Homo sapiens: one gene and its partner. The protein of the gene in region 1 purifies or fractionates together with the protein of each later gene. This does not show direct contact. Each region holds a gene or a part of one and is shown in the gene's direction. Other genes may lie near its edges. The genes, in order: SPAG1 and NOPCHAP1.

Region 1 (3,817 bases):
TGGAGAATCCATTCACCCCAAATGAACTACCTGTTTGTGTGTGAGGTAGCAATCTTCTGTGACACTATTACCCTTAATTCATATGAATTCCCTCTTCACATGAAGAGTACAGACAACAAACAGGGACAGATGAGTCTCATTATTCATTGACTCTTGGTGTTTTCATAGTGTGTTAAATGCCTGATTTCAATTTTACAGCAACAAAAAATACCAATATTTATTCTGAAAGGTAATTGTATGTTCCAAGCAGCCGATATTAACAACTTCCATCACGACTCTAGGAATAATTCGCAGTTCTGAACCATGTTTTAGAAAAACATTTCCAGCAGGTCTGTGCAGGATTTTTTCCTATTCCATCATTGGTAATAATTGCACTTCTTGCAGCAGGAACTTGAAATTCTTCTGTTGCAAACTGTAAGACTGCTGTGAAAGGTGTACTTTCAGGAACAGAGTACTTTGTACGCCAGCCGCGGGTCAGACCTCAGAGTGATCTTAAAGGAAACCTTTGACATGGTGGCGCCGGGAGGAACCCAGAACCCACGCCAACTCCGCGGAGCAACCCCACTTCCTCCACGGTGCCGGGGACCACACCGCCCCACTCACCCTTATCCAGTTTTTAAAGTGTGTGATGAAAATTGGTTACTTTGGAGTTCCTTTTTTTCTTCTTTTAATCATTCCATAGATTAACGGGTAAAAATGGAGACTATGCGGGTTAAGGAAAGAGACTGGGAAGCAGCCCTTGAGATCTCCACAGAACCTCAGGGTTCCATGGAACCCAGCCTGCAAACCGCTGGTCTAGATGATCCTAAATAAGGTGCTAACTCTAAAACTTATTTATTTCTTTTTAAGATCTGGTGAGGAAGGATATTATCCTGAACTTACAGAATTTTGTGAAAAGCATCTTCAAGCCTTGGCCCCTGAAAGCAGAGCTTTGAGGAAAGATAAACCAGCAGCAACAGCAGCCAGTTTTACAGCTGAAGAATGGGAAAAAATTGATGGTGATATAAAGGTATATAGTAATACCAATTTTCCATAGATATTGTTGAGACATTCTATATATGTTTACTTCACTTATCGGAAATCCTAGGCTTCTTGTTTGTCCGTAAAGGGCTTTTAGTGTCAATTAGGCAGGATTGGTTGCTTTTTACACCCAGGGGAACATTGCGAATTCGCGTGTGTGTGCGTCCGTACATGTGTATATTTAAATTGATTAAATAATATTCTGTCCTATTAAAAAACCTATAATTTAATCATCTTCAATAAATAGTGCTGTATAAACATGTTTATTTGTAATTTTTTTTCTTTTTTTTTTGAGATGGAGTCTTGCTTTGTTGCCCAGGCTGGAGTGCAGTGGCACGATCTTGGCTCACTGCAACCTCTGCCTCCCAGGTTCAAGTGATTCTCCTGCCTCAGCCTCCCGAGCAGCTGGGATTACAGGTGCATGCCACCATGCCTGGCTAATTTTTGTATTTTTAGTAGAGATGGGGTTTCACCATATTGGCCAGACTTCTCGAACTCCTGACCTCAGGTGATCCACCCACCTCGGCCTCCCAAAGTGCTGGGATTACAGGTGTGAGCCACCATGCCTGGCCTATTTGTAATTTTTTTGCACCTCCCTGATTATTTCCTCAGGATAAATTATTATAATTCAAATTGCTTGGTCAGATGTGGTTGCTCACACCACCTGTAATCCCAGCACTTTGGGAGGCTGAGGCAGAAGGATCACTTCAGGCCAGGAGTTTGAGACCAGCCTGGGCAACATAGGTAGAGCTGTCTCTACAAAAATATAAAAATTAGCTGGACGTGGTGGCATGTGTCTGTAATCCCAGCCATTCAGGAGGCTGAGACAGGAGGATCGCTTTATCCTGAGAGACCGAGGCTGCCGTGAGCTGTGATGGTGTCATTGCACTCCGGCCTGGGTGACAGAGTGAGACCCTGTCTAAAAACAAAAAGCAAGAGAAAGAGAAAAAGAATTTAAATTGTTTGATCAAAGGATTTGAATATTTTTAAGCCTTTTCAAACATATGTTCTCAGAAAAGTTGTACCTTCATACACCACCCCCAACAGTGTATAAGAATGCCCAAGCCAGGTGCAGTGGTGTGTGCCTATAGTCCCAGTTACTCAGGGAGGATTGCTTGAACCCAAGAGTTCAAGGCCAGCCTAGACAATACAGAGAGACCTGGTTTCTTTATTAAAAAAAACAAAAACAAACAAACAAAATGCCCATTTTTAGGTACTCTTTGCTGGATACTGTAATCATTTTTAGTCAATTAAATAGTTGAAAAAATGGTAGTACCATAGTCCCTTCTTATCTTTGGGGCATACTTTCCAAGACCCCCAGTAGATGCCTAAAACTGCAAATAGTACTGAAGCCTAAATATACCATGCTTTTTCCTCTATATGCATATCTATGATAAAGTTTAACTTATAAATTAGGCACACTAAGAGATTAACAATAAAAAACAGAACAATTATAACAGCATACTGTTGTAAGAGTTATGTGAATATGAGCTCTCTTTCTCTCAAAATATCTTACTGTATTGTACTCACCTATTTTTGGATGGCAGTTGACTGTGGGTAACTGAAACCACAGAAAGCAAAATTACAGATAAGGGGAGGACTATTGTAGTATATTTTTTGATTGCTAGAAAAGTTGAGTTATTTTTCATGAATCTGTCACTTAAATTTCTTCTTAAATATTTACAGATTTCTTTTAATCAGCTTTATTGAGATAAAATTTACATTCCATATAAATTACCAACTTTATAGTGTACATTTCACTGAGTTTTGACAAACGTATATGATACAGAACATTTCCATCACCACTAAAAGTTTTCTCTTGCCCATTTGTGGTCAGTGTAGACCCCACTGCCTGGCCTTTGGCAACCACTGAACTGTCAGCATAGTTTTGCCTTTTCTAGACTTGCATATAAATGTAATCATACAGTATGTTGTCATTCCTGTGTGTCTTCTTTCACTTATATAATGCTTTTGAGATTCATCTGTGTTGTTGCATGTGTCCATAGTTTGCTCCTCTGAGTTGCTAAGTAGTATGAAATTGTATGAATATCCCACAGTTTGTTTACCCACTTACCTTTGATAAGACCCGCAGTGGATGCCTAAAACCTAGATAATACTGAGCCCTAAATATACTATGTTTTGACTGCCAAAATGTTTTCCAAAGTGGCTGTACCATTGTGCAATCCTGACAGCAATATATAAAATTTCCACCTGCTTTACATCCTGGTCAGCACATAGTATTGTCCGTTTTGTTAGTTTTAGCCATCCTACCAGGTATCTCATTGTGGTTTTAATTTGCGTATCTCTAGTGACTAATGATATTGAGTGTCTTTTCATGTAACTTCTATTGTGAGGTGTCTTTACATCCTTTGCCCGTTAAAAAAAAATTGCCTTGTGTTCTTATTGAGTTGCCAAATAATTGTTCTTTATCAGATACGTTGCTTTTTTGCCCAGGCTGGAGTGCAGTGGCACCATCACAGCTCGCTGCAGCCTTGACCTCCCAGACTCAAGCGATGCTCCCACTTCAGCCTTCAGAGTAGCTGGGACCACAGGTGTGTACCACCACACCTGGCTATTTTTTTTTTTTTAATTGTTTGTAGAGACAGGGCTTCACTATGTTGTCCAGGCTAGTCTTGAACTCCTGGGCTGCTTTGGCCCCTCAAAGTACTGGGATTACAGCATGAGCCACCATGCCCAGCCATCTTTTTTTTTTTGTTGTTGAGACAGAGCTTTGCTCTTGTTGCCCAGGCTGGAGTGCAATGACACAGTCTCAGCTCATTGCAACCTCCAACTCCCA
Region 2 (3,817 bases), on another chromosome or scaffold:
GTGTCCAGGAATTTATCCATTTCTTCTAGATTTTCTAGAGGTGTTTATAGTTATTTGTATAGAGTTGTTTATAGTATTCTCTGATGGTGGTTTGTATTTCTGTGGGATCAGTGATGATATCCCCTTTATCATTTTTTATTGTGTCTGTTTGATTCTTCTCTCTTTTCTTCTTTATTAATTGGGCTTGTGGTCTATCTATTTTGTTAATCTTCTCAAAAAACCAGCTCCTGGATTCGTGGATTTTTTGAAGGGTTTTTTGTGTCTCTATCTCCTTCAGTTCTGCTCTGATCTTAGTTATTTCTTGTCTTCTGCTAGCTTTTGAATTTGCTTGCTCTCGCTTCTCTGGTTCTTTTAATTGTGATGTTAGAGTATCGATTTTAGATCTTTCCCGCTTTCTCCTGTGGGCATTTAGTGCTATAAATTTCCCTCTAAACACTGCTTTAGCTGTGTCCCAGAGATTCTGGTATGTTGTGTCTTTGTTCTCATTGGTTTCAAATAATTTATTTATTTCTGCCTAAACTTCGTTATTTACCCAGTAGTCATTCAGGAGCAGGTTGTTCAGTTTCCACATAGTTGTGCATTTTTTAGTGAATTTCTTAATCCTGAGTTTTAATTTGATTGCACTGTGGTCTGAGAGACCATTTGTTATGATTTCCGTTCTTTTGCATTTAGCTGAGGAGTGTTTTACTTCAATTATGTGGTCAATTTTAGAAAAAGTGTGATGTGGTGCTGAGAAGAATGTATATTCTGTTGATTTGGAGTGGAGAGTTCTGTAGATGTCTATTAAGCACACTTGGTCCAGAGCTGAGTTCAAGTCCTGAATAGCCTTGTTAATTTTCTGTCTTGTTGATCTATCTAATACTGACAGTGGGGTGTTAAAGTCTCCCACTATTATTGTGTGGGAGTCTAAGTCTCTTTGTAGGTCTCTAAGAACTTGCTTTGTGAATCTGTGTGCTCCTGTATTGGGTGCATATATATTTAGGATAGTTAGCTCTTCTTGTTGGGTTGATCCCTTTACCATTATGTAATGCCCTTCTTTGTCTTTTTTGATCTTTGTTGGTTTAAAGTCTGTTTTATCGGAGACCAGGATTGCAACCCCTGCTTTTTTTTTGCTTTCCATTTGCTTGGTAAATATTCCTCCATCCCTTTATTTTGAGCCTATGTGTGTCTTTGCACATGAGATGGGTCTCCTGAATACAGCACACTGATGGGTCTTGACTCTTTATCCAGTTTGACTGATGGATCTTGACTCTTTATCCTGTGTCTTTTAATTGGGGCATTTAGTCCATTTACATTTAAGGTTAATATTGTTATGTGCGAATTTGATCCTGTCATTATGATGGTTATTTTTCCCATTAATTGATGCAGTTTCTTCATAGTGTTGATGGTCCTTACAATTTGGTATGTTTTTGCAGTGGCTAGTGCCAGTTTTTCCTTTCCATATTTAGTGCTGCCTTCAGGAGCTCTTGTAAGGCAGGCCTGGTGGTGACAAAATCTCTCAGCATTTGCTTGTCTGTAAAGGATTTTATTTCTCGTTCGCTTATGAAGCTTAGTTTGGCTGGATATGAAATTCTGGGTTGAAAATTCTTCTTTTTAAGAATGTTGAATATTGGCCCCCACTCTCTTCTGGCTTGTAGGGTTTCTTCAGAGAGATCCACTGTTAGTCTGATGGGCTTCCCTTTTTGGGTAATTCAACCTTTCTCTCTGGCTGCCCTTAACATTTTTTCCTTCATTTCAACCTTGGTGAATCTGATGATTATGTGTCTTGGGGTTGCTCTTCTCGAGGAATATCTTCATGGTGTTCTCTGTATTTCCTGAATTTGAATGTTGGCCTGTCTTGCTAGGTTGGGGAAGTTCTCGTGGATAATATCCTGAAGAGTGTTTTCCAACTTGGTTCCATTCTCCCTGTCACTTTCAGGTACACCAATCAAACGTAGGCTAGGTCTTTTCACATAGTCTCATATTTCTTGGACGCTTTGTTCCTTTTCATTCTTTTTTCTCTAATCTGTCTTCACGCTTTATTTCATTAAGTTGATCTTCAATCTCTGATATCCTTTCTCCCACTTGATCGATTAGGCCATTGATACTTGTGTATGCTTCACGAAGTTCTTGGGCTGTGTTTTTCAGCTCCATCAGGTCATTTATGTTCTTCTCTCAACTGGTTATTCTAGTTAGCAATTTCTCTAATCTTTTTTCAAGGTTCTTAGCTTCCTTGCATTGGGTTAGAACATGCTCCTTTAGCTCGGAGGAATTTGTTATTATCTGCCTTCTGAAGCCTACTTCTGTCAATTCGTCAAACTTATTCTCTGTCCAGTTTTGTTTCCTTGCTGGTGAGGAGTTGTGATCCTTTGGAGGAGAAGAGGTGTTCTGGTTTTTGGAATTTTCAGCCTTTTTGCGCTGGGTTTTCCTCATCTTCCTGGATTTACCTACCTTTGCTCTTTTATGTTGGTAACCTTTGGGTGGGGTTTCTGTGTGGACGTCCTTTTTGTTGATGTAGATGCTATTCCTTTCTGTTAGTTTTCCTTCTCTAACAGGCCCCTCTGCTGCAGGTCTGCTGGAGTTTGCTGGAGGTCCACTCCAGACCCTGTTTACCTGGGTATCACCAGCAGAGGCTGCAGAACAGCAAAAATTGCTGCCTGTTCCTTCCTCTGGAAGCTTCCTCCCAGAGGGTCACCCGCTAGATGCCAGCTGGAGATCTCCTGTGTGAGGTTTCTGTCAACCTCTGCTGGGAGGTGTCTCCCAGTCAGTAGGCATAGGGGTCAAGGACCCACTTGAGGAGGCAGTCTGTCCCTTAGCAGAGCTTGAGCACTGTGCTGGGAGATCTGCTCTCTTCAGAGCTGGCAGGCAGGAATGTTTAAGTCTGCTGAAGCTGCGCCCACAGCCACCCGATCCCCCAGGTGTTCTGTCCCAGGGAGATAGGACTTTTATCTATAATCCCCTTGACTGGGACTGCTGCCTTTCTTTCAGAGATGCCCTGCCAGAGAGGAATCTAGAGAGGCAGTCTAGGCACAGCTGCTTTGCCGCACTGTGGTGGGCTCTGCCCAATTTGAATTTCCCTGTGGCTTTATTTACACTGTGAGGAGAAAACTGCCTACTCAAGCCTCAGTCGTGGTGGACACCCCTTTTCCCACCAAGCTCAAGTGTCCCACGTTGACTTCAGACTGCTGTGCTGGCAGTGAGAATTTCAAGCCAGTGGATCTTAGCTTGCTGGGCTCTGTGGGGGTGGGATTTGCTAAGCTTGACCACTTGGCTTTCTATCTTCAGCCCCCTTTCCAGGGGAGTGAACGGTTCTGTCTCGCTGGTGTTCCAGGCACCACTGGGGTATGAAGAAAAACTCCTGCAGCTAGCTCGGTGTTTGCCCAAACAGCCACCCAGCTTTGAGCTTGAAACCCAGGGCCCTGGTGGTGTAGGCACCCGAGGGAATCTCCTGGTCTGCGGGTTGTGAAGACCGTGGGAAAAGCATAGTATCTGGGCCGGAGTGCACCGTTCCTCACGGCACAGTATCTCATGGCTTCCCTTGGCTAGGGGAGGGAGTTCCCTGGCTTCCCTTGGCTTCCCTGGGCTAGGGGAGGGAGTTCCCTAACGCTTTGTGCTTCCCAGGTGAGGCAACACCCCACCCTTCTTCTGCTCCCCATCCATGGGCTGTACCCACTGTCTAACCAGTCCCAATGAGGTGAGCTGGGTACCTCAGTTGGAAATGCAGAAATCGCTTGCCTTCTGCGTTGATCTCGCTGGGAGCTGCAGACCGGAGTTGTTCCTATTTGGCCATCTTGCCAGCCAGCCGAGAGATCACTTTTTACTGTGATAGGCAATTTAC

Evidence for each region.
Region 2: the proteins of SPAG1 (region 1) and NOPCHAP1 purify together in Homo sapiens (affinity purification with mass spectrometry, with the first as the bait; one large-scale study listed by BioGRID). This does not show direct contact.

The regions. Positions count from the first base shown.
Region 1 is NC_000008.11:100,164,965-100,168,781, forward strand, and holds part of SPAG1 (sperm-associated antigen 1), read left to right. Parts: intron 1-849; coding exon 850-1,009; intron 1,010-3,817. UniProt on the Homo sapiens protein: May play a role in the cytoplasmic assembly of the ciliary dynein arms. May play a role in fertilization. Binds GTP and has GTPase activity.
Region 2 is NC_000012.12:105,010,203-105,014,019, forward strand, and holds part of NOPCHAP1 (NOP protein chaperone 1), read left to right. Parts: 3' UTR 1-3,817. UniProt on the Homo sapiens protein: Client-loading PAQosome/R2TP complex cofactor that selects NOP58 to promote box C/D small nucleolar ribonucleoprotein (snoRNP) assembly. Acts as a bridge between NOP58 and the R2TP complex via RUVBL1:RUVBL2.